4 linked regions of the Homo sapiens genome follow. The protein of the gene in region 1 interacts with the protein of each later gene in a biochemical or structural test. Each region holds a gene or a part of one and is shown in the gene's direction. Other genes may lie near its edges. The genes, in order: TAL1, LMO2, ELSPBP1 and SIN3A.

Region 1 (8,582 bases):
CAGGAGTTTGAGACCAGCCTGGCTAACATGGTGAAACTTCATCTCTATTAAAAATACAAAAAAGGCCGGGTGTGGTGGCTCATGCCTGTAATCCCAGCACTTTGGAAGGCCAAGGCGGGCGGATCACCTGAAGTCAGGAGTTCGAGACCAGCCTGGCCAACATGGTAAAACCCTGTCTCTACTAAAAATATAAGTAATTAGCTGGGCGTGGTGATGCATGCCTGTAGTCCCAGCTTCTTGGGAGGCTGAGGCACAAGAATTGCTTGAACTCATGAGGCAGAGGTTGTGGTGAGCCAAAATTGTGCCATTGCACTCCAGCCTGGGTGACAGAGGGAGACTCTGTCTCAAAAAAAAAAAAAAAAAAAAATTAGCTGGGTGTGGCGGCATGCACCTGTAGTCCCAGCTACTCAGGAGGCTGAGGCAGGAGAATTGCTTGAACCCAGGAGGCAGAGGTTGCAGTGAGCCGAGATCACACCATTGTATTCCAGCCTGGGAGACAGAGTGAAACTCTGTCTCAAAAAAAAAAAAAAGCACGGTGTTTTCTTAACACAATTTTACTTTGGCCTTTGCTACAGATGGGGGTTGTAAACTAGAGAAGTGGTTCTCAAATTTTGTGTGTGTGTCAGAAATCATCAGGAAGGCTTGTGAAAACAAATTGCTGGGCCTCACCCTCAGAGTAGTAGTAGTAGGCCTGGGGTGAGGCCTGAGAATTTGCTTTTCTAACAGGTTCCTCGGTGATGCTGACCATCCACTTTGAGAGCCACTGAGAGTGAAGTTCCTTCCATCCCTGAGAATTCTGACAGCAGCGTTGGGGTTTGGAAGCACAGACGTGACTCCCAAGCTCGGAATTCTTGAGGCCTGCTTACTGATGGGGTAGGGGTTCTTCCAGGGCAAGAGACAGAGGCAAAAATGGAGAGAATAGTCCTTTGAAAGTGGAAGAGGGAAATAATGACATTTCCTCAAATTGAAATTTTCCTCATTAAAAATAATCCTTATATAAACAGTATTATGTATGGAAAATGAGCACCTCTCTTCTGCAAATAAGGAAAGTGAACCTCAGAGATTAAGTAATTTGCCTGGTATCATACAGCTGGCAACTAGGGGAGCAGGGATAGGAGCTCAGGTCTGCCTGACCATTGTGCTTGCTTTGCTGCTTTCGAAGCACTGTGGCCTGAAGCCAGACTGCCCTAGGTGTGAATTTTGCCTCCACCACTTACCTGCTGGGTGTTCTCTGCAAGTTGCTCAACCTCTCTGTGCTACCTACAAAATGGAGTAGTCCCTACTTCATTAGGTTCTTGCAAGGATTAACTGAATTAATACTTACAAAGTGCCTAGGACAGTACTTGTCACACAGTAACTGCAGTGTAGATTTGTTAAAAATAAACTCGGCTGCTCATCAGAGTGCATGCATGGCATCTTTCCGGAGAAGAAGCTCGGGGGAGAAGCTCAGAGATAGTCCAGTACTCAGAGAGGGCAGGCAGAAACACTTGAAAAATGGTAAGAGGCTTGGCTTTGGGGTTTAGGGAGAACCCAACCTTTGGTGGTGGGGAACAACGGCCTCAGGGCCAGAGCCTAGCTAGCCTGTTCTTGTCCCCTGCTCTTGCTGCCCCAGTTCCAGACTCCAGACTTACCAGTCTGGGTCTCAACCTCCCCTCCCTCCTCGCCACCCCCACCCCAGGCGCTCCGGGTTTCCTGCCCGACTGGGGCCTCCGTTTGGGGCGGGTGGAGGAGGGGTGGCATTTCCTGGCTGGCCCCGGCCTGTCACTCTCTCGTGGACGCTCGGACAACTCGCTGACCGACAGGCACCAGATGCTATTTCAGGCAGCGCCCCGCTTAGCGCACAGCTTCCGTTTTTCCACTGACCATCGGAAACAGGGGAGGGGGCAGATGTAGACGTCATGAGACCCCAGCCCCTGGCAGGGCTTTGGTGGATGAGGTCGGGAGTGGCTGCCTGACTGTCAGAATCTGGAGCTTGGCAGAGAACAAATGTGTGGAATTGGAGGGTTGGTGAACGTCACCTCCTCGCTCCACAGACAGAGGCCTGGGCACACCCTCTGCCACAGGGCTGAGAAACGCCTTTCCACCTGTCCATATTCCTTCACCACAGGAAAGGACACTTTCCTTGGAGGTGCTGGCTGGGGACATTTAATGCCCTGTAAAATAATCCAACAGTCTGCAGGTGTCTCAAAGGCATCTAAACTTAAGGAGTTCAAAACCAAATATATAAGCCCTCCCCATGTCCCCTCAGCCTCCAGGTTCCCCATCTCCAGGAATAACCACCACTAGCTCTGCAGGACAGCCAGAAACCCAGGGGTTTTCCTGGATTCCTTCCTCTCCCTCATCCCCCCAAACCCAATTCTTTTTTTGTTTGTTTGTTTGAGACAGAGTCTCGCTCTGTCGCCAGGCTGGAGTGCAGTGTCGCGATCTCGGCTCACTGCAACCTCTGCCTCCTGGGTTCAGGTGATTCTCCTGCCTCAGCCTCCTGAGTAGCTGAGACTACAGGCGTGCGCTGCCACACCCAGCTAATTTTTGTATTTTTAGTGGAGACAGGGTTTCATCATGTTGGCCAGGATGGTCTCGATCTCTTGACCTCGTGACCCGCCTGCCTGGGCCTCCCAAAGTGCTGGGATTAGAGGCATGAGCCACCATGCCTGGCCCAAATCCAATTATTATAAACCCAGTTTTATACCCCAAATACATGTCATCTTCACTTGCCTCTTGTCATCTCTTCTGCCAGCACAGTGGTCCAAGCTCTAATCCGCTTCCCCTAACCACTGCATTGGCTCCACAACTGGCCTCCCAGAGTCCTTCCCCCTCCACACTTCATCCAAAGAACTTTCTAGAAATGCAAATCTTATTCTATACAAGGTACCACCCCCACCTTCAAACCAAACAAACAAAAAAATGTCAAAAAATCTTTTAACTTGTCCACAAGCATGCTCCAGCCATACTGGACACTTTTCTATTCTTTTCACGAACCTACCACCCTTCTGTTCTAGCCCTTGGTCCAGCTGTTTCCTCAGCCCACCTGGAAGGTTCTGGATACTGATGCTTCTCCCCACCCCCCTTCTTCGCACCCCCAAATTTCACTCTTAGATCTCAGTCCAGGCCTCATTTTCTCAGAGAAGCAGTCCCCACCTGGGCTCTCCCATATGGGAATGGCTAGCCTGTTTTTACAGTGGCTCAGAGACATGAAATCACTTCTCTAAGGGTCCCACAGCCCAGGAATGGCAGAGTTGTGTTTCAGACTCAGAATTATATGACTCTCATTTTCTAATAAGTGATGGAGCCAAGCAAAGGCCTTATGGTAGGGGGGAACTAGACTTTTTCTTAGGATGTGGGATTCTGTGAGAGTTATCTGTATCCCCATGACAGCCTGACTTCCTTCAGAGAGCACAGGAGGAACAGAGGGGACAGGCGGCACTGAATTAACTGTATCTTCTCAGAGGGTCAACCTGATGACCAAGGAGAAGCCAGATCCCAGACTGGGGCCATGCTCTCTGCTCAGTCTTTGACTGGGACTCAGTTTGTTACCAGAGTAGGGGTTTTCCCCCAGTTCTCAGGCTCCAAAAAAAGCTCAAAAGCAGAGACACTAGAAGGACAAATCAGCCTGGCATGGAAAGTAGAGTTGTGGACTGGGAATTGGACACCAAAGTTTGGGTCCTGGCTTTTCCTTTGGGTTACTGTAAGTTTTGGCTAAGTCACATCTCTCTGTGTCTTAATTTCTTTCTCTATGATGATAACCAGAACTCCCATGCAAGTGCATATGATGTTTTCCTGGGCTGTGGACTGAGTGACGTTCCATACATTATTATCCTCACCACCACCTTTTAAAGGTCATATAAGTTAGTTCTCATAACTTTGTGACGTCGACATTATCTCCCCATTTTACAAATGAGAAAACTGAGGTTCAGAGATCAGTGACTAAAATTCGAACATGTGTTCTTTCCACTCCACCATGAAAGAATGAACCCAGAGACCCTCCGTGGGCTGAGCGCATCATCCAGCTGGCACTGAACTCAGATTTCTACCCCACAGTAAAGACCCTGGTCTCTGCAATGAGTTGAGCCCAGGTCCCTTTCCCTGGCTAGGTTTTGGCTGCCCCTCTTCATCAGCTGAGCCGCAGAGAAGACTCCGTGTCAAATTTCCTTCCAAGGCAGACTCCACCAAGCACTAGCTATGTATCATTCGAAAAGTTACTTTGACTTTCTGTGCCTCAGTTTTCTCTTCTGTAAATTAAGGATCCAGCTTCTCAGGACTGTTTGTGAAGAGTAGATTAGTATTTGCAGAATGCCTAGAATAGTGTTACAGTCGCTAGATTAAACTTTTTTTTTTTTTTTAAATACCATGTGGGGAGCAGTGTTCCTGGGCTCTGGGCTCAGCCTGAAACCTAGCAGAATAGGCATTTTATGTCCCTATTGACAGGGGTTCTGCCAGGCCGCCGTAGAGCCCATGGATTTGAGTTACCGGCTCTATTTTAGAAGGGGGTGAAGAGGTAGGGAAGGGCTGGGGAGCTTTCTGGGATAGGGAGACTGCCCATTGAAATCTGGGTGTCTGGGACACTGGAGGAAGAATAAGAAAGAAGCCCTGGGAGGTGACGATTTTGGTATCATGGTGGTCTTCAGAGGTAGGGACAGAGTGCTGGGGTGAGAGTCGCTGAAGAAAGGTGTCTGAAAGGTTAAGGGACTGAGGTTGTGGGAAGCTGGGGTTCCTGAGAGGCCTTGGGATTAGAGATGGGGGCTGGATCTGCTGGGTCCTAGACAGCGCGTCCAACGCTCCCCGCAGCGCGTTCCGGAGCCGGTCCTAGCGCCGCTCAACCAGTCCCCACTCCCTCCGGTGAAATTGCCAAATTAAAATGAATCATTTGGCCCATAATGGCCGAGGCGCTTATCGGGGGCGGGCGGACCCGCGGCAGTGCCTTATCTCTGCGGCGCACACGGCCCCGGCGCGCCTCGGCCCATGCTAACGAGGCCTGGAACGTGAGTGGGATTACAGCGCGTCGGTGGAGGGGCCGGGCGGGCGCGGGGCGGGCGGGGGAGCGGGGGCCGCGGGAGGGGCCGGGCCGCCGCCGCTCAGGACCGGGCCTCAAAATGGCCACACGCGTACCCCCGTAGCGGAAAAACGTGAGCATTCTGGCCTTTTTCTAGGGGAAAAGCAACCCGCGGCCTCCCACCGAATTCTTCATCAATTTCCTCCTCTTTTTCCCCACGTCCGCAAAAGAGGTCTTCGCTCCCTTTCCCTCGGTTCCTTTCGATGGCCGGGGGGGGCGGTGGGGGGGCATTTTCCACGGACGCCCCCGCCCCGGCTGCCGCCGCCCCTCCCGCCTCGGAGACTCTCTTCCTTCCTTCCCCCTTTTCCTTACGCAATATACAGAAATGCGCGAGGCTGTGGTTGGTTTTCATTTCTTCTTCGTGGTTGTGTGCATGCGGTGGGATTGTGAGAGTGCGTTCATGAGAACTGTGGGCGGCGTTGGCTGCTTCTAAGTGTGGTCTTCTTGGCGACAGGCTCTGTGTCCGAGTGTGGTGTGCCTGCGCGGTTGGGGTGTGTAGATGTGGACCCTTCGAGGCCCTTCTGCGTTTTCTTCGTTGCGTACGATTGTGCTCCGTTGGTGTTCTCAGCAGGGATCTGATTCTGTGTGTGGGGGTGTGTGGCCCCTGCGACTGTGTTTGGGTGGTGTCGTCGTTATGTCGGGCGTGTGTGATCCCGACTGTGCTGGATTGTGTGTCCGTGAGCCGCTGCGTTTGACTGATTTCGTTGTGTCCTGTTGGGCAGTGTGCGGGGCTGACCAAGTCGGCTTCTGGGGCAGTGCTAGGTGGTGTTTGTTTGCTGCCCTTCTGTGGGGCTGGACCCTGTGTGGTCCTGTCCGCACTGAGTTGTATGCCTGTGTGCCTGTGTCCTTTAGAGGTGCGTTTGCAAATCGCTGGGGGCGGGAGTGGGGGGAGGGCGAGCGAGAGATCGAGGCGCTGGTGGGGGCGGCGGCATGGGGGCGGGGAGCGGGATTTCACATTTTATTCCAAATTATGATGTATTCGGGAGCCAGTTGTTGGCTTGGGTGGGCGGACAGCGCCCGGTCGGCGGCTGCTCTGCCCGGAGGCCCGCCTGTGCCTAGGTGTTTGAGGGGTTCGTTGGTGAGTGGGAGGCTCCTCCAGGCTTGAAGCTGAGCAGCGCTCGCCGAGGCCGGCGCCTTCGAGCCGGTAGCTGCGGGCTTCGGTTCCCGCTGCACTCCGGCTTCATCCATTTCTGGTCAGTTTCGTGGGTGCGGCCGCCGGGCTCCAAGGGAGAGGCCCCGAAAGGACAATGGGCACATTCACCAGGCCTCGAGCCTCGGGTGGGGACATTCGGGATCACCTCCTGGGAAGATTTTCCCGCCCCCTCTTCGGGTGAGCGACGTTGCCGCTTGGGTCTGATACCCGTCGCATCCGAGACCGAGGCCGAATCCGGGCTCTGGGAGGGACCGGGTTAGTGGGGCCCTAGCTCGGGTTGAAAGAATTTTGTTTTGTCAATTATTGTAATTGCTAATGCCATCACCATCACAATCGTCATCATTAACATCTATTTTAATTAAAATAATCATCCCAGAGCGCAGCAGTTTGTCCCTTTTGGCTCCTTTGGCGGGAGAACAAAGCAGCGGGTTTTTTTCCGCTACAGCCGTTTTCTAAGTTGCTGGGTTTGAGGTAGGAAGAGAAAATGGAGAGAGGCACGGACACAGAGACTTGGTCATAAGGCAAACATTAACCCCCAGCGAACACGCAACATTAACCCCCCGCGAACACGCCGGGAATGGATGGATTCCCCTCTTCTTTCCTCCCCTCCCCTCTTTTGGATTAGAAGAGGAGAAAGAAAATCTTCCGCATTGTATTGCAATCCAGGGAAGAATTATTCCTATATGTCCACCAAAGCCGCGGCAAATAGAAGGAGGCCTTCGCAGTTAATCCAAGACTTCGATGTGTGATCATAAGCCTGACGATTTAGGCAAAACAAATTAAACAAAATCCACTAGGAAAAAATAAAAGCAAGCTCAATCCTGCTACATCCTTGAAAGTAGTGTCGGGTTTGTTTTTACCTCCTTTCCTTTTACCTTGTTTATTGCTGTAACAAATCATTAGAATTCTCCCTTACTCTGTCTAAACCCCGAAAAATCGAAAATCATTTCGTAGGGGTGGTGGAGGGGAAGGTGGGGGACTTTTCCCCTTTGTTTCTTTCTTTCCCCCTTTGTTGGTCTTTATTTCCTTTTCTTTTTCTGTCTCTCTCTTCCTCTCTCTTTCTTCTTTCTCTTAATCAGTAGGGAGACGAGAAAGGACCTGAACAGATCAGATATCTCTCTCCAAGCCCCCTTCCCAACTCCATTTCTGTAGGAAAGTACAGCCCCTGGAATTGGGTTCTGGTTTCGCTTTGGGCTGGAGGTGGGTGGATGGGGGTCAGAGAGAGAATGAGGTGGGGGGGACTTCAAGGTTCTGTCCCACCGACCAGAGTCTGAAGACTATTCGCCTTTCCCAACACGGACCTCCGCCCATCCAGGCCCGGGACTATCCCTTCGCGGTGTAGCGGCAGCCGGAGACCTGGCTGAGGAGGCAACCGCGTAGACACCTCCCTGCTTAGAAAACAAACACTGAACCAGACCGATCCCAGTTGGAGGGTTCGAAAATGTTCCAGACAGCCTGTCGGGAGGGGTTGTTGTTGCTGTTGGACTAAATAGCTATTCCTGATTGGTCATGTATAGGGTTTTTTAAGGCGGGTGGGGGGAGGAGGGGGTAGAGGAAAGGCTCCAAACACCTGCAGGTTGGGGGCGGAAAGCTGTTTGCGATTCCCTGGACTGGTTGGTCGGGGACAGGAGGTAATTCCCAGCCATTGACCCCCATTTCTCTCTCTCCCTCCCTCTTGCCCTGCCTCTTTCTCTCCACCCCTATCTTTCCTGGAAACTCGCTTTGGGCGCGGCAGATCGCCCAGGACCACACCGCAGCGTAACTGCAGGCCTCTCAGCGAAAAAGGGGGAAAGCAAAGACCCGGGTGTGCATCCTCTTCCTCGGCTTCCGCCCCTTTCCGGCGGAGTGGAGATCCTATTCAGAGGGGCCGGTCTCTCTAAATATGCCCCAGGTGAGTTTTCAGGGGAATGGTGCCGGTGGAAACGGTGTCTAGGAAGGCCTTGTGTTCCGGCCTGGGGTGAGGAAGGCTCAGGACAGAGGAGAGCCCATTCTCAGATTGGGGGTGGGGGGAGGGGAGGACCAGCCAGAGCTTGGAATCGGGATCTGACTGCTGTAGCTGCCTCTGTGGCATTCAGCGGCTTTTTCCCTTTTCCACCCAGGGTAAAACCAGCTAGTTGGACTTAGTCGTCCAGGCCTTTCCCATTGGTCCCGGTTCTGTGGACGTTTCCCAAGGCCGGTAACTTTGGGGCGGCTGTATCCGGGTGGTACAGACTGTGCCTGGAGCTCCCGCAGGAGGAAGGCGGCAGCCTTCCTGGCTAGTGCAGTCCCAGCTCGAGTGGGCCCTGATCCCAGGCCTGAGGCCTAGGGTGGGGAGGCAGGAACACCCCTCTTCTCCGGTAGAGGCGAGGATGGTGGTGCTGTTCCCTGGTGGGTTTGGTA
Region 2 (7,704 bases), on another chromosome or scaffold:
GCTGTGAGCTTCTGAGAATGGACCCTTGTCTGACCTGCTTCTGTATCTCTAGTGTGACTGCTTTGTCTGGCACAACAGAACTGCTCAGCGATTCTGTTGAACGGATGCTGCTGCCTGGCCCGTATCTGGCCTGGAGAGTCTGGCTGCGAGCTCATCTGTGCTCTGGTCTGGCTAAGGTTAGCTGCAGCCCTAGGAACTCAGAGAGTGTGTCCTGGACATTTCACCCCTAGTTGGTGAGCTCCTCAAGGGTAGGGACGGTGTCTTGTTTATTTTTAAATTCTTGGTGCCCAGTACAGTGCCTGGTACACAGGAGATGCTCAAATGGCTACCCCTAGCCTCTGAGGTCCCACTGCACTCAAAGAAGAGCAGAGCTCCAAATGACCTTGTCATCTTTCCCCTATTACCCAAACCTGTTCAATTTCCCCATTTCTGTTTATTAAAGATCCATTTTCTCAGTTACAAAGATCCAAGACTCCTCGAGGGTATTCTACCCTAACGGAAATAGGACAGGCTTTGTAGTCAGACTTGAACCCTGGCTTTGGCGACTACTAGCTGTCCTGCCTGGAGAAGTTGCGTACCCTTCCTGAGCCTCAGTTTTCCCTTTCATTGAATCAGGATGATAATACACACTTCATTCATCCACTCAGCAAGTGTTTACTGGGCGCCTCATACACAGCAGGAACTGTTCTAGGCACTGCGGATACGTAGACGTCAACAAAACAAACATTGCTCTTGCCTGAAAGGGGCTTACAAACTTGAGAGGGGGAGACAGACACCAATCAAATAAGCAAGTACACATATAGTATGCCAGATGGCAATATGTGCTAGGGAGAAAAATAACACAGAGTGAGGGAAAATGGAATGCGCTGGCCCGGGTTATTAGTGTCTTACTCAGGTGATGAAGGAAGACCTTTCTAATAAGAAGAACTCACATCTGGGGAAGAATGTTCCCGGAAGAAGGAGAAGAGCAAAGGCCCTAAAGCAAGAGTTTGAAGAATGACAAGGGGTCCTGTGTGGATGAAGCAGAGGGAGGGAAGGAGGAAGGGAGTGTAAGAGAAGGGGACACAGAGATGGCTAGAGCCAGATATGCAGGGCCTTATAGGACTTTGGCTTTTTACTCTGGGCAAGAAGGAAACCTTGGGAGAGCTTCAAGCAGAGGAGCGAAATGATCTGATGCAGGTTATGAAAGGATCCCCCTGGCAGTGGCACAGAGTATGGCCCCTGACCTGTGTGGATGGGGCAGAAGCATAAGGCTGGCCATTTGCATCCCACAAATGACCTCAGTGTGAGGGATGAGCGAGATCATATACGAATGCGCTTGCGTGAGTATGCATAGAGCAAGTGCTCAAGCCATGGCAGCTTCTATCAATGGCCCTGCAGCTGCCTGGCTATAGCTCCCTGGTCTCCTGCAGACAAGTCTTGGCCAGTCACGTGAGTGCCTCTGTCATTGCCCACTCAGTCATTCCCCCTGCCCCCACCTCCTTTCTTCAACCCTTCACTGGTGGTTAAGCTCCTAGCACAGCAGCCTCACCTCCAGCCTCTCCCCACCCCAACCCAACCCAAATGCAACTCCACTCACATCCTTCCCCTGTTCAAGAGTCTTCCATGGACTAGTGGCTCATTAAATCCACATTCTTGGCTAGGTGCAGTGGCTCACACCTGTAATCCCATCACTTTGGGAGGCCAAGGCGGGCAGATGGCTTGAGCCCAGGAGTTTGAGATCAGCCTGAGCAACATGGCAAAACCCCATCTCTACAAAAAGCAAACAAACAAACAAACAAAAAACAAAACAAAAGAACAAAACAAAAATTAGCCAAGCGTGGTGGCACACACAGCTGCTTGGGAGGTTGAGGTGGGAGGATCACCTGAACTCAGAAGGTCAAGGCTGCAGTGAACCACAGTATCACCACTGCACTCCAGCCTGAGCAACAGAGCAAGACCCTGTCTCAAAAAAAAAAAAAAAAAAAAAATCCACATTCCTGGAGACTTGCAGCTAAGGCCTTCCACAATAAGATGCTGCATTTACGTTTCCCACCCATAATCAACTGCTATCCCAAACATATTGAATATCTGTGGAGAAGTATGGGTGGGTGCAATATGTCACTCCTAGCAGAATCACTGAGGAAACTGACCACACTCATGATGGAAAATTGACGGTAATGAGTCCTTCCCTCAGGTTCCCCAACCCCACAATATGCCCTAACCATGGTGGACATGTATTCCTGTCTGTCACTGGCTCACTTCTCCCACCAGGCTACCGCAAACTCCACAATGATGTATATTCTCTTAAAGCTACAAAATGGCTTGTGGTTTCCAAATCAGTTTTCCTTACTGCTCTTATCTCCCTTGATACTTGCCCCTATGGGCCCCTCATCCATAATAAAATGCCCTCATTTTACACTTACTAGTTCTGACAAGAGTCCCAGGTTCCAAGTCATGGATTCCCATGTGGGATTGCTCCTCTGATCCTTCATTCCTATATCTTTTTTCAATCTATCCACAATTCACAAGGCATCGGTGTCAGACCAATGGCAAATAATAAGTGGGACCTGCTGGCTATGGATGGAAGAGCGAAGTCCCTGACAACATGTTTCTACCAGCCTGGAAATGAGGCTCTCCCATCCCCTAACACATCTACCAGTTGTGATGGATTTAAAGGCTGGCTAATGTTAAGCTTGTTCCACAGGGGATAGAATATTGGCCCCTGGACTGACACCTACCACCATGTGGATCTTGGAGCAAGACAAAGGAGCCCCCCAACATTCGTGTTCTGAAATAACAATGCCTGAGGCTGTCTATTCCCCACCACGGATGCCAAAGCACAGACAGCCACTCACAGCTGTGGGATACAGATGCCCCTGTCATTATAAAAGGCCAGCCCTAAATGCTATTACAGAGTCTAAAAACTGAAAATGTTATTGTGAAACCTTTAGGTTTTTTATAGCTGGCTATGCCTGATATAGCTGGTGGCCTGGGACACAGTTTCCCTACTCAGCGCTGGGACACCTCGGCAATACTGCACCCACAGTGTCATCCCTATCTGTTTGGAATGTACAATTCTTCTACAACACCATGGGCCAGGAATATCACATCATCCTGAGAAGCCATCAGGACAAACAAAAAGGAATGTGGTCCTGTATGTTTAGTCCCACCTCCCCTACAAACTACTTTTATCATAGAAATGATGCCCAATTGTCAGCCCAGCGCATGTGGTGTCCTCCAGCACCCCTTCTAAATGTGCCCTCAAGCACCCCTTCTGCTTTGTGCATCTTTGTGACACCCTTCCAGATGTCAGCCTATATCTCCATGACCCAAATCTGACTTAAGAGTTGTGGCCGGGCATGGTGGCTCATGCCTGTAATCCCAGCACTTTGGGAGGCCAAGGCAGGTGGATCACCTGAAGTCAGGAGTTTGAGACGAGCCTGGCCAACATGGTGAAACCCCGTCTCTACTAAAAATACAAAAAAATTAGCCAAGCTTGGTGGTGGGCACCTGCAATCCCAGCTACTTGGGAGGCTGAGGCAGGAGAATTGCTTGAACCTGGGAGGCAGAGGCTGCAATGAGCCAAGATTGTGCCATTGCACTCCAGCCTAGGTGACAAGAGCGAAACTCTGGCTCAAAAAAAAAAAAGGTGTACCAGCCCAGGGAGACAATGGCCACATTGCAGGTGATGACCACAGCCCAGCCAACCACTGCATCCTGGAGGCTGCCCACCAGTTACCCACATCATCTACCAAGGGACCCCCTTGCTGGAGCACAAACAGCTTCCCTTGGGGGATCCCTCAATCAGCATTTGTCACATACCTGAAAAGGGTGGCCACCACACAGGCCACCAAAGTTATAACTCTCTCCTCTCACTTCCTCCCCATTGGGCACAATAAACCTCATTGCCATTGTGGCTGGAACTTCCCTTCCTGGGCCTCCCAAAGCAATTCTACTGCCTAAGGCTATCTCCGGGCTAACTTGTATGTACACAGAGATAAAGCCACATCCCAGTGGCTGGACCTCATGCAATGTTGGGCCTCCTATCTGCCCCCATGAGCAGGCCACTCCCTTATTTGCACCACAAAACCACCAACACCAAACACTTCTGGTCTAGGCTCCTAGGTCTTGCCCTGTCCTATGTTGGCTCAGATGTTATCCAGTCTGGTCCCCGGCTCATGAGTCCAGATCATACATCTATCCAAATGTATAAATACATGCCTATGCTTGTATCTTCCTAGGCCCACACAGCACAACTAGTGTCATGGCCCACCCCAGATATTAAAGGAACACAAGAGATTGGAAGCCCCAGAGGGAACCTGCTTCACCTGTTCCACTCCTAGATAACTTCTTCCTGACGTCCCAAATACCTAAACTCACCTGCACACTGCTAAGTCTGACAACCCCCTTCACATTTTTCTGACTGTTCTGCAATTTAACCCTGCTGGTCACAGTCCCCAGTCAGAGGTGATGGGCAGTCTTCCTACCCATTGTCCTGGGTATAAGCATGACTTGGGGCCAGAAGAGTGGGACTAAGGTCTTACAATATGATCACACCAGGAAAACTAGCAGATACTTCAGAGAAAGATCCGAGGTCCTATCAGCCCACGTAACACAAAAAACAGCAGCACTGGAAGCTTTCACTGAAGGGCAAAAACCCCTAACTGCCAGGGTGGCAGATAAGAGACTAGCTCCAGATGATATGCCAGCTTCCCAGAAGGAGTATATGCTCTCAGAGGGCATAGTGTATCCTGCTGGACGTGGATAAATATTGCAAGGCAAAGTAATCCAAATAGCCCAATGGATGTACCACCAAACAGAAACCAAATTCTACATGTGGTACTCTGAACTCCCTAGGACTTGGATGTCCCCTGTAGCCTGGGGTGACCTTGTTTTAGGAGCCCTCCTGCCCACAAGTAGACTTACATACTGCACTGGCTATGTAAAATTGGTACAGCCTATATACAAGTATATTAGCTCTTTGGATGGTGAACCAAATGTTAGGGAGTGAATTTTGAAGAAATTGAGTTGAGTGCAAAAAGTTGCTCCCAGCAAAATGTCATTTGTCCAAATAGTTAACACCCACTGGGGCAGAAACCATCAGGGCACCCCACCCCTCACCACCCACTCAGCCCCACTCACCTCTGCAGCACCTAGTAATCATATGCAAGAAAACTCACCCTTACTCTTTTTGATTGACCACCCCCAGCCTGACCCCCAATGGAGCAGATCACTCAAAATTAATCTTCCCCCACTACCTCCTCTCGGCATTATTCAACAGGTGGGCCCCTGTCCTATATCTACGTAGGTCCCCAGCACCAGGCTCTTTCTCCTCCCCAGAAGTCAGGGAGTCCTCTTCTCAGTGGGGCCCTCAACCAGTGGCTTCCCTCGCTGCCTATGCCTGCATAAGTAATACACCTTTGAATTGCCTGTGATCACCGGGTCAGGTGTGGTGCGTTTTGGCATCCAAGGCTTTTAAATGGGAGAGAACAGCAGATCTGGTTCCTTTCACTGGAATATTGTTATGGTCCAATTCTGCAACCAGCTGACTTCATTACTACCTGTGAACTGCACCTCCAGCTCCTCCAACTGACCCCATACCCAGACCCTTACTTGGGCTGTTTCCTACCAGACACACCTGCTCTGTTAAGAAAACCATTATTGAAATCACCGGCTGTTAATTCCTACTCAGTCCTTAGTAGCCCTGTGAGCTGGAGCAAGTTCTGTAGGCTTTCTGTGACTCAGTTTCATCACCCATAAAATTATGATTACAATACTTACTTCATTAGGGTGTTGCAAGGGCCTAAAAAACACTCTATGTATAGCTCAAAGTACAAGCCTGACAACAAAGGAAGTTTCCAGATAATCGCTCATCAAGGGGCAACTCGATTTTCTGCTTCCTCCAGAAAGCCTTCCATGCTGATGTCCATCCACTCTGATCTCTCCCTAATCCAATCTGATTGCAGTTTTGATCAGCACCTCACTGTTGACCATGGATTTCTTCTCCATTACAAATGTGTTCATTTTGACTTCCAAGTAAGAGATAAAGGTCTTGGAAAGAAGTGATTGCATTTTACCTGGCTCTCCTACTGACTTTCTGTGTCATCTTCCTCTTAATTTTGGGGAGACTGAGTTTCTTTCTCTGGGATGGCAAATACATGGCCTATGTGCCAACACTTTCCCATCCTGAAACCTCAGGACACACACCAGTGTTCTCATCTTCTCTCCAGAACCTGGGTCCAGACTCACAATTCTTCTTAACACAATACTTTGGACAGTGTCTACTAACTTATCTAATAAATATGTTTTGAGTACTTCGTAGGTACCATCCCCCTTGGTCAGTTTCTAGAAGTTAAAACGTTGGACATCTTGTATCTGCACTTATGGAACTCATCCCTTAGTGGAGAAGAAAGACAATATGCAAATACACAAATAAGAAAATATCAAGTAGTGACAAATATAATGATGAAAATTAAATAACGGTGTGTTAGTGCCTGGGGAGGAGGCTATTTTTTAGATCAGGTATCCAGGGAAAGGCCTTCTGAGGTTTCTCCCTTGATCTGGGAGATTGGGTGTGGGCCTAAGAATATGTATTCCTAACATGCAAACGTAGGAAATTTGGGAAACACTGGCATAGTGAATGAGGTGAGGGCATAGTCAGAAGACCTAGGTCTAAATTCCGTCTCCTACATTTATGCAGCTGTATGACCCTGGGAAAGTTATTGAAATTTCTCTCTCACTTTCCTCCTCTGTAAAATTGGAATAATATTACTGATCTCAGGAGGTTTCTTATCAGGATTGAATAAGATCAAGTATTTAAAATGCCTGGCACATAATAAGTGCTCAATAAAAGGTAGGCATTGTTTGCCACAATTAGGTCTATCTATTTATAACCGTAATCTTTTGTTTGAATCACTCAAGAGACAAATCCAATAAATGCCGCTAGGTAATACGGTGTCTGCGTGTTGGCTTTTGCCTCATGAAGCTCTTCCTCTTGAAAAATAAATTTTCAAAAGACATTCCTGTGAGCAAGAATGCCCGAGTCTAAGGAACAAGGGTCATCCAGTTCTCTAGTTTAGGCATGTTTGAGATTTGAAAGGGCTTTGGCCTAATTTCCTCTCCTATCAAATGGGCACCAGGCTACCTGCCCTTTTTCACTCATGGGGGATTTCTGAGACTCAGAGGGATAAGAGATTTGCAAAGCGTGAGACACAAACAGTTGCAGATACAGACAGAACACTTGCTTTCTCAGACCGGCAGGTGCATACAATGGCAAGGCCACCTGATACACCAGTCCTGTTCATTTGGAAAAGGGACAACTCCTTCACATTCACAAGCTGGGCTGGTAAGTGAAGAATAAGAAGAAAAAAAAAAGAAGTCGGCAGGAAGCAGCCTCTTCAACCAGCAAAGAAACCGTTAGAATCCATCCCTGCGCCCTGATGCCAAAGTTCCGCCTGCCCCACCCGTCACGCTATCAAGGACACCCGCCTGCTATCAGAAAGCCCTGGGGGTCTTTTTCCCTAGTTTATCAAGGACCTGTGGAAACATTTCTCTAACTGAAGATAAGAATTTTTTTTCTCTCTCTTTCTCCTTTCTACTTCTAGCTGTCTAAACCAGAGGGTTCCTCTCATTTTCTTTCAGTAACAACTGCTCTGAAAAGAAGATATTTTTCAACCTGAACTTGCAGTAGCTAGTGGAGAGGCAGGTAAGGTGGGTTTCATT
Region 3 (7,704 bases), on another chromosome or scaffold:
ACAGGCATGTGCACGTATATGTATATACACATTATGTATGTGCATATACATGTATAATTACTGTTTCTAAAATGTTTTATTGATACACAACAATTGTATATATTTATTGAGGTACGCGTGATTTTTTTTCTTTTCCTTATTTATTTATTTAATAGACATGGTGTCCCACTCTGTTGTCCAGGCTGGTCTCAAATTCCTGGTCTCAAGTGATCCTCCCACCTCAGCCTCCCAAAGTGCTGGGATTACAGGTGTGAGCCACTGATGTGATATTTTGATACATGCAGACAGTAATGATCAAATCAGGGTATTTAGGATATCCATTACTTTCAACATTTATCATTTCTTTGTGTTGGGAATATTGCAACTCTTCTCTTCTAGGTATATACATAATTAAATTGTTTTTAAAGACATAAGTCACACATCTGTGATAAAAACTTAATTGGAAAGAAGTCTCCTATTTACCCCTGGTTCCCACTTCCAGAGGTGATTGATATCAGTGGCTTCTCACATGCCCGCTCAGGAAAACACTCTGTACATGTATGTGCATGGGGAACACAGATGCAGTGTCTTGCTGAGAACTACAAGGCTCTGACCTAGGTTTGCTAGTGTCACCATCTTTTCGTTCCTCTGCACTTACTCCAAAATTGGTAGTCAGCAGCTTCCAGTAAAATCTCAAGGATGGCCTGGGCGCGGTAGCTCAATCCTGTAATCCCAGCACTTAGGGGGGCTGAGGTGTGTGGATCATGAGGTCTGGAGTTCAAGATCAGCCTGGCCAAGATGGTGAAACCCCGTCTCTACTAAAAATACAAAAATTAGCCGGGTGCAGTGGCAGGCGCCTGTAATACCAGCTACTCGGGAGGCTGAGGCAGGAGAATCGCTTGAACCGGGGGACAGAGGTTGCAGTGAGCTTAGATCGTGCCACTACACTCTAGCCTGAGTGACAGAGTGAGACTCCATCTCAAAAAAAAGAAAAAAAATCAATCAATCAATCAATCAATCTCAGGGATTGGGCTAATGAGCCCGGGCATGCGCATTAAGAGACAAAATGGCAGAGTCCGGGGCGCGGTGGCTCACGCCTGTAATCCCAGCACTTTGGGAGGCCGAGGCGGGCGGATCACGAGGTCAGGAGATCGAGACCATCCTGGCTAACACAGTGAAACCCCGTCTTTACTAAAAATACAAAAAAATCAGCCGAGCGTGGTGGTGGGCGCCTGTAGTCCCAGCTACGCGGGAGGCTGAGGCAGGAGAATGGCGTGGACCCGGGAGGCGGAGCTTGCAGTGAGCCGAGATCGCGCCACTGCATTCCAGCCTGGGTGACAGAGCCAGACTCCGTCTCAAAAAAAAAAAAAAAAAAAATGCAGAGTCCAACCTTTTGGGGGACATTTCACTGGAAAGGGAAGAAAGTCTCAGACGAGCTTGTGTACAAGTCCAGTAAACACACCGCGCATGCTCACTTCCCAAGCCTAAAGGAGGCACTGCGCATGCGGGAGGCCCACCCTAAGGGGAAAAATGAAGGGTCCAGCCATGTGGCCCTCCCTTCTGTGCGTCAGAACATGTCACATTGTTTCCCACATCAGCAGCTTTGCCCTCACTGATCCCTGTGCCTGGAATGCTTGTTCCTCACACTGTGTGTGGCTGACTCTAGGTTTTGGTTCAAACATCACCTGCTCAGAGAGGCCTTCCCTGACCACCAAAGGAGACATCTGTCAGGCATGATTGTTTACATTCCCCTGTTTATTATTTTTTTTCATTGCACTTTTCATATTCTGAAATGATTTTGGTTTTGGTTACTGTGGTAGAATACACATAAGATTATGATTTTAACTATTTTAAAGTGCACAATTTAGTGGCGACAAGCACATTCACAATGTTGCACCATCATCACCATTATCTATTTCCAGGAACTTGTCACCACCCCATACTGAAAGCCTCATTTCTTTTTTTTTTTTTTTTTTTGAGAAAGAGTCTCGCTCTGCCACCCAGGCTGGAATGCAGTGGTGTGATCTCGGCTCACAGCAACCTCCACTTCCTGGCTTCAAACAATTCTGGTGCCTTAGCCTATGGAATAGTTGGGATTACAGGCATGTGTCACCACGCCTGGCTAATTTTTGTATTTTTAGTAGAGATGGGGTTCAACATGTTGGCCAGGCTGGTCTTGAACTCCTGGCCTCAAGTGATCCACCCACCTCGGCCTCCCAAAGTGCTGGGATTACAGGCGTGAGCCACCACCCTGGTCAGAAAACCTCATTTGTATTTTGTCTTTCCCACCCTAGTAAAATATTAGCCTCATGCAAGAAGGAATTTCACCTGTCCAGTCTACCGACAACTCCACATAGTAGGAGGAACACAACAAATATTTATCACATACGTGATTTTTTTTTTTTTTTTAGGAAATGGGGTCTCGCTCTGTCATTCAGGCTGGAGTGCAGTGGTGCAATCATAGCTCACTGCAGCCTCAATATCCTGGGCTCAAGTGATCCTTCCCCCTCAGCCTCCTGAGTAGCTGGGACTACAGGTGTGCACCATCTTGCTCAACTAATTTTTAATATTTTGTAGAGAAGGAGGGGGTCTCACTACGTTGCACAAGCTGGTCTTGAACTCCTGAACACAAGTGATCCTCCCACCTTGGCCTCCCAAAGTGCTGGGATTACAGGCCTGAGCCCGCACGCCCAGCCTATGTTTACCATGATTATTTGTTGAGCACTCAGCATGTGCCAAGAACTCTGCTTACATTGTATCATTTCATTCTTCCCCCACCCCGGCCGCCCCCCAAAAATCCTGCCCCCTCCCCCATCCCCCATAGATGGAGTCTCACTCTGCCCAGGCTGTAATGCAGTGAGCCAAGACTGGCACGATCTTGGCTCAGTGCAACCTCTGCCTCCTGGGTTCAAGCAATTCTCCTGCCTCAGTCTCCTGAGTAGCTGGGATTACAAGTGCGTGCCACCACGCCCAGCTAATTTTTGTATTTTTAGTAGAGACGTGGTTTCACTATGTTGGTCAAGCTGGTCTCTAACTCATGACCTTGTGATTCGCCCTCCTCGGCCTCCCAAAGTGCCGGGATTACATTCATTTCATTATTAAACAGTCCTACGGGATAGATTTCAGTTGTCTCATATATAGAAAAGAAAGCTGAGAGTCAAATACATTCCATAACACTCTGAAGGTCACACGGATGAGCAGAAATTCGTATACAGGCTACCCTTTTCCGAAGCCACAACCACTTACGTATTTCTCCATTGTGGAGATGAGGACTCCGAGCTGTGCGTGTGTCCATGGAGCCACACAGCTGGCTTGAGAGGGAGCCTAAGGTTAGACACCTTTGCTCCGTACCTGTTCCAGGATGGCTGATTCAAATGGGACAGAGATAATGAAAATGATAACGATTAATATTTACAAAGCACGTTTTATGTGGCAGGCAGGGTTTTCAGCCCCCTGTGTGTGCATTAGTTTTCTGCAGTGGCTGTAACAAATCCCCACACACCTAACCGACTTGACACACATTTGTTCTCTTACAGTTCTGTGAGTCAGTCTCACTGGGGCTAAGATCAGGGTACCAGCCAGGCTGCATTCCTTCTGGAGGCTGTAGGGAAGAATCCGCTTCCTGGCTTCTTCCAGCTTCTAAAGGTCGCCTGCATTCTTTGGCTCGTGGCCTCTTCCTGGCATAACTCTAACCTCTGCTTTCTGTTGTCACACCTGGTTTTCTGACTCTCCTGCCTCTCTCTCTGTTTTTTTTTTTTTTGACACAGAGTCTCGCTCTGTTGACAGGCTGGAGTGTGGTGGTGCAATCTTGGCTCACTGCAACCTCTAACTCCCTGGTTCAAGAGATTCTCCTGCCTCAGCCTCCTGAGTAGCTGGGATTACAGCTGAGTAGCTGGGATTACACCACACCCAGCTAATTTTTTTTTTTTTTGTAGTAGAGACGTGGTTTCACCATGTTGGCCAGCATGGTCTCAATCTCCTGACCTCATGATCCTTGTGATCCACCCGCCTCGGCATCCCACCACCTCTCTTTTATAAGGGCCCTTGTGATGACATTGGGTCCATCTGGGGAATCCCGGATCATCTTCCCATCTCAAGATCCTTAGCTTTATGACATCTGCAAAGTCTTCCACACTCCTTTTTTTGAGACAGGGTCTGGCTCTGTCACCCAGGCTGGATCATAGCTCACTGCAGCCTCAAAACCCTGGGTGCAAGTGATCCTCCTGCCTCAGCCTCTTGAGTAGACAGGACTACAGGCATGTGCCACCATGCTAGTTTTCTTTCTTTTTTTTTTTAAGATTGTTTGTAGATAGGGGTCTCACTGTGTTACCTAGGCTGATCTCGACCTCCTGGGCTCAACCAGTCCTCCCACCTCAGCCTCTCGAATAGCTAGGACTGCAGGCATGTGCCACCATGCTGGCTGTTTTTTTTTAATTTTAAGATTTTTTGTAGATACGAGGTCTCACTATGTTGCCCAGGCTGATCTCAAACTCCTGGGCTTGAGTGATCCTCCTGCGTCAGCTTCCTGAAGTGCTGGGATGACAATTATGAGTTACCATGACTGGCCCGCAAAATCCACTGTGCCATGCAACCTAGCATATTCGTGGACTCTAGGAATTAGGACGTGGACAGATTTGTGTTGGGTGGGTATTATTCTACCCACCAAGCGTCTATGAACGACACTAACATTCTGTAGCAGCAACAGTGATCACCATCCCTTCCACTGTGCGGATGAGGACTGAGACCCAGGAAACTCAGTACTTTGTTGGGGTCACAAAGGTAGTAAGAGGCAAAGCATGGAAACCCAGGTGGTTGGGCTCCAGGGCAGGCTCTTTCTGGCATTATAACCTTCTGCCTGTCTGGATCTTAGCATCTAAGCCAAAAATTATTCATTTGAATCTTGAGGAGAAGGGTCAAAATGAAAGCTTGAGGTTAATGAACCAATTAAGGTGTAGGAATTGGGGTTTTGGGCCAGGCAGGAATATAAGCATGACACTGCAGGTAGTCAAGGGTTTAGAGGAGGTGGCAAAATTTGTCTCTCCCCCATCTCCATAAATAGTAATTAAAACATCTCGCTTGGGCCGGGCGCAGTGGCTCATGCCTGTAATCCCAGCACTTTGGGAGGCCCAGGTAAGCAGATCACTTGGGGTCAGGAGTTCAAAACCAACCTGGCCAACACGGTGAAACCGTGTCTCTACTAAAAAGACAAAAAAATAGCTGAGCGTGATGGCTCGTGCCTGTAATCCCAGTGACTCAGGAGGCCGAGGCAAGAGAATTGCTTGAACCGGGGAGGCGGAGGTTGCAGTGAGCTAAGATCGTGCCACTGCACTCCAGCTTGGGGTGCAGAGCAAGACTTCATCTCAAAAACAAACAAAAATTCTGGCTTGTATGCTGTCTTCATAAATAGTAATGAAAATATCTGGCTTGTATGCCCCCTCTGACATTTACACAGTGCTTTCCAGCATCTGCTGCATGTATAAGATCCCAAGGTGGAGTTTATTCTCCCTCATTTGATGATTGGAAAAACTATCCCCATATTTTCCTGTGGTTTGACTCCATAGCCACAGCAACCCTTTTTCCGACCAGCCAAGAAACAGCAGCGGTGGCAGGATGCTGGTCCCAACCACCCCGGGGCTCAGGACAGAGGGTTCTCCAAGCATCTGAACCTGCCAGTGCCCAAAGCATAACTTGGTCCTCACCTGGATGTTCCAGACGAGACATGGGTGTCTGGCTATTAGGGCTTGTTTTACAGTTGAATAATTATTTTGAATGGCCCCTAAAATATTTTCTATGAATATCCATAACTTGGTCTGTGCAGAGTCATAAACCTTCCAGACCATCAGTTGCTACCAATTCTTCGAATTTGCACAGAACTCTTTATTGCACAAAGAAGCAAGCCATGCAAATAGCTGGGGTCAAGGGATCATCCCAGGCAAAGAGAAGAGCGAGTGCAAAGGCCTTGAGGTGGCTTCTGCAGGAAACAACTAAAAGGCAGATCGAGGGAGGGGAAGGAAGATAAGAAATGAGTTTGAGGGAAGGCACAGTATGGACTAGGGATTGTATTCTAAAGGTGATGGAGGATTTTGAATGAATAAATGCCACCCCTGCTCTTTTTTTTTTTTTTTTTGATGGAGTCTTGCTCTGTCACCCAGGCTGGAGTGCAGTGGCACGATCTCGGCTCACTGCAACCTCCGCCTCCTGGGTTCAAGTGATTCTCCTTCCTCAGCCTCCTGAGTAGCTGGGACTACAGGCACCTGCTACCACGCCCAGCTAATTTTTTTTTTTTTTGTATTTTTAGTAGAGATGGAGTTTCACCATGTTGGCCAGGCTGGTCTCGAACACCTGACCTCAGACGATCTGCCCACCTCATCCTCCCAAAGTGCTGGAATTATAGGCATGAGCTACCGTGTCCGGCCCACTCCTCCTCACTTTAACCCCTCCCGTGGCTTCTGGTTGCTTCTATTCTATTCTATTCTATTCTATTCTATTCTATTCTATTCTATTCTATTCTATTCTATTCTATTCTATTCTTTTGAGACAGTCTTCCTCTGTTGCCCAGGCTGGAGTGCAGTGGTATGATCTCGGCTCACAGCAACCTCTGCCTCCTGGGTTCAAGCGATTTTCCTGGCTCAGCCTCCCGAGTAGCTGGAATTACAGGCACGCACCATCATGTGGAGGGAATTTTTGTACTTTTAGTAGAGATGAGGTTTTACCATGTTGACCAGGCTGGTCATGAACTCCTGACCTCAGATGATCTGCCCGCCTCGGCCTCCCAAGGTGCTGGGATTACAGGCATGAGCCACCACACCTGGCCTTCTGGTTGCATTTAGAATCTGAGGGAGGCTCTACAGGGTCCGGTCCCATCCATCTCACCATGCATCTCTGTGGCCTTGCTCCTCCTCACTTGTTGTAGAGACGAGGTGTCACTGTGTGGCCCAGGCTGGTCTCAAACTCCTAAGCTTAAGCCATCCTCCTGCTCAGCCTCCCAAAACACTGGGATTATAGGCATGAGCCACTGTGCCCAGCCTGGGCCTTAGCCATGCGGGTCCCACTTGCTCCTTGAGCACATCTAGCTTTTTCCATCTCAGGCAGTTTCCACGTCGGCTTCTCCTGCCTGGATGTATCCCCCACCCCCATACCTCCAGCTCCTCTCACGTCTCCCTCCTCCATCTGTTCCTCCAGGTGTCAGCTTACCTGTCATTTCTCAGAGCACCCTCCCCTCACCTCTCAATCAAAAGTGACCTTGTCCTAGTTGTTCCTGAGACTCGTCCACAGCAATGATCACAGCGAAGAGTTGTATTTGTTTCTGGTTTCTTCGCTTCATATCTGTCTCCTTGGTTGACTCTCAGCCCCACGAAGGCAGGGCCTATGCCTGCTTTACCCACTGCTGCATACTCATCGTGTAGCCCTGGCCCCACATCTTTTAAATGCTCAATAAATACTCATTCCTGAGTGGATGCATAAAGCATGCATCAGGAAAGGGCCCATACTGGGCACAGTGGCTCTTGCCTGTAATCCCAGTGCTTAGGAGGCTACGCAGGAGGATGGCTTGGGCTCAGGAGTTTGAGACCAGCCTGGGCAACATAGCAAGACCTCGTCTCTACAAACAATAATAATAGTTTAAAAATTAGCTGGGTGTGGTGATGCGTGCCTGTAGTCCCAGCCACTTGGGAGGCTGAGGTGGGAGGATCACTTGATGGGAGATGGAGGCTGTAGTGAGCCATG
Region 4 (7,704 bases), on another chromosome or scaffold:
AAAAGATGTGTGATTGTACTCAAGCTTTGTATCTGGCATATTGATTTTGGAAGGAAGAGGATATAGTTTATTTACTGGAAGATAAAGGATGCTCCTTTTTGCAGCTGAATTTTCAAAATCATGCCTTTATTTTATGCATACCTTTATTGATGGAAATTATGGCCACTAGACTTTTTTATCCCTATTGGTAAATTTTCCTTAACTAAATTTTTTCCAGTGTTTTGTCTCAATCAGGGAAGTAGCACTGGTAGTGATTTAGGCTACTTGGTTTCTGAATTGGTTTAGATACCCTTATATTCTGGCATGGTTCACTGTTGTAAGAGTGTAACTCATCTGAACAATGTAGATGTGTGCTGAAATGATGTATACTGGTATATCAAAGAGTGAATCTTGTTTGGGATATGTAGCTTTATATATATCATCTGAGTATCTGCTTGGTAGAATTATTACAATGAACATATATTCTGTTAAAAATTTTGACCATTCCAAAAATTAGCCGGGCATGGTGGCGGGTGCCTGTAATCCCAGCTACTTGGGAGGCTGAGGCAGGAGAATTGCTTGAACCCAGGAGGCGGAGGCTGCAGTGTGCCGAGATTGTGCTACTGCACTCCAGCCTGGGCAACAGAATGAGACTCTGTCTCAAAAAAAAAAAAAACAAATTGTGGCCAAGTATCTTTGAGTCTAAAACTAAATGGCTTTGGAATTTCAGAGTTCGTGTGTTAATTTTAAAATGCGTAGATGATCTGTTTTCCTGTTTAGAGAAAACCTAGTAGAAAGTGAAATTTTGAGTGAGGTGGCTCATGCCTGTAATCCCAGCACTTTGGGAGGCCAAGGTGGGCGGATCACCTGAGGTCAGGAGTTCGAGACCAGCCTGGCCAACATGGTGAAACCCCACCTGTCCTAAAAATACAAAAATTAGCCGGGTATGGTGGCGCATGCCTGTAATCCCAGCTACTTGGGAGGCTGAGGCAGGAGAATCACTTGAACTCGGGAGGTGGAGGTTGCAGTGAGCCAAGACCCCAAGATTGCACCATTGCAGTCCAGCCTGGGCAACAGAGTGAGACTCCGTCTCAAAAGAAAAAAAAACATGAAATTTTTTCTTAACAGGGTGTTTGTTAAGCTTACAGTTTATCACTTTTCTTTTTGTTTTTTATCAGCATCGACACCCCAGGAGTGATTAGTCGTGTGTCCCAGCTATTCAAAGGCCACCCCGATCTGATAATGGGATTCAACACCTTCTTGCCCCCTGGCTACAAAATTGAGGTGCAAACCAATGACATGGTGAATGTGACAACTCCTGGCCAGGTTCATCAGATTCCCACCCATGGCATCCAGCCACAGCCTCAACCACCACCCCAACATCCTTCCCAGCCTTCAGCCCAGTCAGCCCCAGCTCCTGCCCAGCCAGCTCCTCAGCCCCCACCTGCCAAAGTCAGCAAGGTGAGCACTTGGAAAATATTGCATCAATATGAATGCATCCCTAGAGAGCACCTTCCTTTGATGTTTCCCCTTTATATAAGACTTAGATACTGAGAAACAAAGTTACAAAGATTTCGTCATAGAAAAATGCTGTATGAAAACTTCACTATGACATGGTTCACATTTACACATCACTTACTTAGGTATCTATTTAAATCAACACAGCAACAACTTTCAAGGTCTTTCTTTTTACAGTTTCTGCTTATAAAACCATGAACATCCCAACAGGTGGTGACTTTGTGTAGTAGTAGTTGACAGCACAGATAGAAACCATCGTCTTATCCTGGTCAAATTGTGCTGCTGCCCACATGGTTATTTTATGAAAGTTATTTCACTAACTAGATTATATCAAGCTAAGTAGAAGATCTAATGAATAGTGATAGTGATGGTGATGAAGATGGGGTGTTCTTGGTCTAGAACCACACTGTCTGACACAGTAGCCACTAGCCACATAGGACTATTTAAATTAAATTCAGTTTTTCATTTGCACTAGCTTTCAAGTGCTCAGTAACCTCATGTGGCTGGTGGCTATGTATAAGACAGTGCAAATAAAGGACATTTCCATCATCTCAGTTCTACAGGACAGAGTTGGCGTAGAAGACTTTTTTATGTGGAGCTACTGCAACAGTTGTCTTGTTGTTGACATCAAAAGGCTATGTAGAATGAGATTTTTTCTATGTGTACTTGTTGAGCTACTAAGCTAAAACATTGCATATGAAAAATTCTTCCCTGTAATTGGAGATGGCTCCAGTTTTAAGGTTTTATTTAGAAAATGTGAGACTGAAATATTTGTATCAGCATGTTTGAACCGCCTACAACTCCCACTGCTGCCCAGTATGATTTGTGTTGGACTAAAATGACCTGGCCTGAGTGAGTAAATAAAGGATATACGTTGACACCTTGTTTCTCTTTAGTTTGAACTTTCCTTGTATCAACTCATCTATGCATCTGAAGAGAATAAAGATTTCTTTTCTTTCTAGCCCTCCCAACTGCAAGCACATACTCCGGCCAGTCAGCAGACTCCCCCACTTCCACCGTATGCATCCCCACGTTCTCCGCCGGTCCAGCCTCACACACCAGTGACAATCTCGTTGGGAACGGCCCCATCCTTGCAGAACAATCAACCTGTGGAGTTTAATCATGCCATCAACTATGTTAATAAGATCAAGAACAGATTTCAGGGCCAACCAGACATCTACAAAGCATTCCTGGAGATTTTGCACACATATCAGGTAAGGAGTGCCCATTCAGCCTGTCTTAACCAGGTCACCCTCTTAGGGCATCTAGTCCAATAACAAGTAACCATTATTGTGTCCATTAATTCATACTGGAAATTAACCAGTTAGAAACTATCATGCATGTTTTTAAAGCCAGTTTGTTTGTTTGTTTGTTTTTCGAGACGGAGTCTTGCACTGTCACCCAGGCTGGAGTGTAGTGGCACGATCTCAGCTCACTGCAGTCTCCGCCTCCCGGGCTCAAGTGATACTCCTGCCTTAGCCTCCCTAGTAGCTGGGATTACAGGCTCCGCCCACCACGCCCAGCTAATTTTTTGTATTGTTAGTAGAAATGGGATTTCACTATGTTGGCTAGGCTGGTCTCGAACTCCTGACCTTGTGATCTGCCCACCTTGGCCTCCCAAAGTGCTGGGATTGCAGGCGTGAGCCACCGCCCCCATGCTATAAAGCCAGTTTTATTTGCCTGACTTGATTGCCCTGCAACATTCAGTCAGGATTTTTTTTTTTTTTTTTGAGACAGAGTTTTGCTCTTTTTGCCTAGGCTGGAGTGCAATAGTGCAGTGTCGGCTCACTGCAGCCTCTACCTCCCGGGTTCAAGTGATTTCTTGTATTTTTAGTAGAGACGGGGTTTCAACATGTTGGCCAGGCTGGTCTCAGGTGATCCACCCGCCATGGCCTCCCAAAGTGCTGGGATTGCAGGCATGAGCCACCGTGCCCGGCCTCAGTCAGGATTGTTAGTCACTGTCCCATGAAATGAAACTCAGTTTTATCTGGGACAGTTAGATGGTGATTTATATAGTCTAGTTAATGTACAGTAGGAGGAGGAGAAATTTCTAAGGTTTTGTCAGTTGGTAGTGGTCCCCTGGGCATTAATATTTATTGCCCTAGGCCGGGCATGGTGTCTCACGCCTGTAATCCCAGTACTTTGGGAGGCCGAGACAAGTGCACTCCAGCCTGAGCAACAAGAGTGAAACTCCGTCTCAAAAATATTTACTACCCTAGTTTTGAAAGGAATTGTCATCCACCATCTTCAACTTTTTTTTTTTCTCAACTTGAAAGTCTGTGGTCAGAACGGGTGCTAAGAACATAGACTTTCTTCTTACATGCAGCCTAAATAGATAACAGTGATTCCAGAAAGCGTGCAAAGATGAGTGACTCAAAACAGTAGCCCAAATGATCTCTTTTCATTTGCAATTCCTCAGAAAGAGCAGAGAAATGCCAAGGAAGCTGGAGGAAACTACACTCCAGCATTGACAGAGCAGGAGGTGTATGCCCAGGTTGCTCGTCTCTTTAAAAACCAGGAAGATTTGTTGTCAGAGTTTGGACAATTCCTACCAGATGCCAACAGCTCCGTGGTATGTTTTTTTAATAAGAATTACACTATTTACTATTATTATCTTAGATGAGTTGGAAAACTGTGCTCAGAAGGGGACTTTTCCTAGATGATATTTGTTTGCTTTGATAAGAGCATTAATCTCATTCATGTGTCTTAATCAGCTTTTAAGCAAAACAACTGCTGAGAAGGTTGATTCTGTGAGAAATGATCATGGAGGCACTGTCAAGAAGCCCCAACTGAACAACAAGCCGCAGAGGCCCAGCCAGAATGGCTGCCAGATCCGCAGACATCCTACAGGAACCACCCCTCCAGTTAAGGTGAGAATGGGCAGCAGCTGCTCATTTTGACACTCACAAGTATTTCTAATGGAGAGGTACTCTAGAGGTGGTCATGTGTTTTGTTGTTGTTGTTTTTTTTTGTTTTTTTGAGACCGAGTCTCGCTCTGTCGCCCAAGCTGGAGTGCAGTGGCACGATCTCGGCTCACTGCAACCTCTGCCTCCCGGGTTCAAGCGATTCTCCTGTCTCGCCCTCCCGAGTAGCTGGGACTACAGGCGCATGCCACCATACCGGGCTGATTTTTTTTTTTTTTTAGTGGAGACGGGGTTTCACCGTGTTAGCCAGGATGGTCTCGATCTCCTGACCTCATGATCTGCCCGCCTCGGCCTCCCAAAGTGCTGGGATTACCTGTGCCCGGCAGTCATGTGTTCTTAAGTGTGTTAACGGTTGGGTCCTAGATATTTGGAGGAAGTTAGTATTGTGTCACAGAAACTCAGTGCAGAGTTTATCTGGCTTTGCAAAAGAGTATTAGAATAACATTGATTGCTTGGATTACTGTACTTTTCTGAGTTCTTTATTATCTCTCCTTTGCAATGAGCTGTCATTTCTTTAATGTTTTGGTTGCTACTAAGAATTTCCAATACTTGAAATTTTTTTCCCTTCTTTTTTTTTTGAGATGGAGTCTTGCTCTGTCGCCCAGGCTGGAGTGCAGTGGTGTGATCTCAGCTCACTACAACCTCTGCCTCCCGGGTTCAAGCAATTATCCTGCCGCAGCCTCCTGAGTAACTGGGACTACAGGCGTGTGCCACCACGCCCAGCTAATTTTTGCATTTTTAGTAGAGATGGGGTTTCGCCATGTTGGCCAGGCTGGTCTTGAACTCCTGACCTCAGGTGATCCACCCACCTCGGCCTCCCAAAGTGCTGGAATTACAGGCGTGAGCCACCGCGCCTGGCCCCTTCTTCTTTGATGCTTTAAATCTGCCTTGTGTTAAGAAAGAACATTCTTGAGCTTGAGAATTATTTCAGAAATAAGTGGTCTCTGAGGTCCTCTTGTGAGTAGAGTGCATGTGTTTTTTGAGATCTCTGGTCTAGAACCCTGTCCTGCTCAAAGTTCTTTGTTGGGTTACCAGATCTTATGTGTATCATCTTAATCTCCAAGGCAGGACCTTTGGGCTGTAGCAGAGGGAAGTCTTAAACTCCTCTTAGTAATCCATTACATGATGTTTTTTGTTATAGTTAACACTGATGGTCTGCCTGCAGAAAACTTAGCTTGCTCCCTTCTTTGATGTAACACAGCTATGATAGGGAGAGGGCTAGTTGTATGTATTGAATGTTTAATTCTTCAGTGAATTTCAAAGCAGTATGTAATATAGAAGAGACAGATATGTCTGCAGAATTAAATAATGACAAAAGTTTGGGAATTTCTAATAGTAAGAGGTGGCTGATGAATAGTGATTGACTGACTACAAGGTCTGACGTACTAGGTGTTACTGACACTTTTGAAGTATCCTTTTCATTAGTGTTTGTCATGGTTTCTTCTTTTGAAATCTTTTGAAATCAAGTTGAACATAATAATGGTTTCTATTTCTTCATTTCAATAAAGAGAATTAGTTATATGGGTAGCAAGAATCAGCTCAGTAGATACACTCCATGCTTGGATTTACGTCCGCCCACTCTTGATTACCTACAGGTGGCAAGAATATAGTGGGGGCTTAAAATTCTCCGCCTACTTTCTCCATAGGCAGTGTAAGCAGAGGCTGCGGCTCTTAAGAAAGTATACTCTGAGATAGCCAAGGTAAATGTGCTACTTCTCACAAAGTTTGTGCATTTCTTCATAGAGAGTAAGTGGTGGATTTTAAAAGTAACTTCTTGCCTGACAGGATTATATCATGGCCTGTTGGTTCCCTTTAGAAGAACAATATTAAATTAGTCTGAGTGGATATTGCTGGCGTGCCTTTTTTTTTTTTTTTTTTTTTTTTTTTTTGAGATGGAGTCTCACTCTGTTGCCCAGGCTGGAGTGCAGTGGCGTGATCTCGGCTCACTGCAGCCTCCACCTCCTGGGTTCAAGCGATTCTTCTGTCTCAGCCTCCTGAGTAGCTGGGACCATAGGCGCACACTACCACGCCCAGCTAATTTTTTTGTATTTTTAGTAGAGACGGGGTTTCACCATGTTGGCCAGGATGGTCTCAATCTCTTGACCTCATGATCTGCCCACCTTGGCCTCCCAAAGTGCTGGGATTACAGGCATGAGTCACCATGCCCAGCAAATTATGCTTTTTAAGTAAATTTTTAATTGAAATATTATTCAGGGTTAAAGATTGATTTCTGTCAATTTGTGAGCTCTTTTTACAAACAGCCTTTTCTCCCTCAGCTGGTAGGAGAACAAAACAGTGGCATTAGATTCTACATGAAGTTACTTTGGGCCCCTAGAAAAAGTAAGGATATTCTAAAAGTTTGTCACAGTAATGTCATGATCATTTCTGGAGAAAATATTTTGGGGGTAGAATGATCTTTGAACCTCTGTTGTAGAAAGAAACTTAATAGGCAAACTGAAATAGAAAATATGAGTTGAAATCTTAGAGGGTATGGAGTGAGTTGGTTAGAGTTCTCTCATTTGTTTCAAATTATTAATCAGCAGTGGTTTCAGTGATGAAACCATTGAATACAGACAAAAATAAAATTCAGAGAAAACCACTCGTTGAATCTCACATGTTTGTATCTTTCTTTTGCAGAAGAAACCCAAACTGCTCAATCTGAAGGATTCTTCTATGGCAGATGCCAGCAAACATGGTGGTGGAACAGAATCGTTATTTTTTGATAAGGTGAGTAATGGATGAGTTAGATTTGATAGTGCCTGTTAATGCCAAAAGAAAATCATCTTATCCCCCTGGAAGGTTTCGTTTTAAAGGTGTCAGGCTAATTAGGACTTTCTGTTTTTTAACATAGTTTCCCAGTTGTGAGTCCTTTGAGTCTGCTAGTACTATTAGCATAGCTAGAAAAATGGTAGCATTGTTTGCTTTGGTTTTATGAAGCAGTTTGGGGCAGAAGACAGATTTTTAGAAAATGTATTATGTTTCTCTTGAAAGATGTTTGGAGCTCCCATTGTAGATATCCAGGTCTGTGTGGCAGGCAGTACCAGTGCCTGTACCAATTTTTGAGGATTTAAGATGACTTGTAATCTTTTTTTTTTTGAGACGGAGTCTCGCTGTCGCCCAGGCTGGAGTGCAGTGGCGCAATCTCGGCTCACTGCAGGCTCCGCCTCCTGGGGTTCACGCCATTCTCCTGCCTCAGCCTCCCGAGTAGCTAGGACTACAGGCGCCCACCACCTCGCCCGGCTAATTTTTTGTATTTTTAGTAGAGACGGGGTTTCACCGTGTT

Evidence for each region.
Region 2: the proteins of TAL1 (region 1) and LMO2 form a complex in vitro, tested with the Homo sapiens proteins (2 studies listed by BioGRID).
Region 3: the proteins of TAL1 (region 1) and ELSPBP1 form a complex in vitro, tested with the Homo sapiens proteins (one study listed by BioGRID).
Region 4: the proteins of TAL1 (region 1) and SIN3A form a complex in vitro, tested with the Homo sapiens proteins (2 studies listed by BioGRID).

The regions. Positions count from the first base shown.
Region 1 is NC_000001.11:47,228,708-47,237,289, reverse strand, and holds the start of TAL1 (T-cell acute lymphocytic leukemia protein 1), read left to right. Parts: upstream 1-5,064; 5' UTR 5,065-5,123; intron 5,124-5,400; exon of another isoform or gene 5,401-5,442; intron 5,443-5,574; exon of another isoform or gene 5,575-5,633; intron 5,634-6,027; exon of another isoform or gene 6,028-6,243; intron 6,244-6,248; exon of another isoform or gene 6,249-6,380; intron 6,381-7,518; exon of another isoform or gene 7,519-7,636; intron 7,637-7,938; 5' UTR 7,939-8,094; intron 8,095-8,582. UniProt on the Homo sapiens protein: Implicated in the genesis of hemopoietic malignancies. It may play an important role in hemopoietic differentiation. Serves as a positive regulator of erythroid differentiation.
Region 2 is NC_000011.10:33,881,807-33,889,510, reverse strand, and holds part of LMO2 (rhombotin-2), read left to right. Parts: intron 1-7,234; exon of another isoform or gene 7,235-7,327; intron 7,328-7,571; exon of another isoform or gene 7,572-7,623; 5' UTR 7,624-7,687; exon of another isoform or gene 7,688-7,692; intron 7,693-7,704. UniProt on the Homo sapiens protein: Acts with TAL1/SCL to regulate red blood cell development. Also acts with LDB1 to maintain erythroid precursors in an immature state.
Region 3 is NC_000019.10:47,997,451-48,005,154, forward strand, and holds part of ELSPBP1 (epididymal sperm-binding protein 1 precursor), read left to right. Parts: intron 1-7,704.
Region 4 is NC_000015.10:75,406,499-75,414,202, reverse strand, and holds part of SIN3A (paired amphipathic helix protein Sin3a), read left to right. Parts: intron 1-1,157; coding exon 1,158-1,440; intron 1,441-2,459; coding exon 2,460-2,711; intron 2,712-3,916; coding exon 3,917-4,069; intron 4,070-4,211; coding exon 4,212-4,367; intron 4,368-7,058; coding exon 7,059-7,148; intron 7,149-7,704. UniProt on the Homo sapiens protein: Acts as a transcriptional repressor. Corepressor for REST. Interacts with MXI1 to repress MYC responsive genes and antagonize MYC oncogenic activities. Also interacts with MXD1-MAX heterodimers to repress transcription by tethering SIN3A to DNA.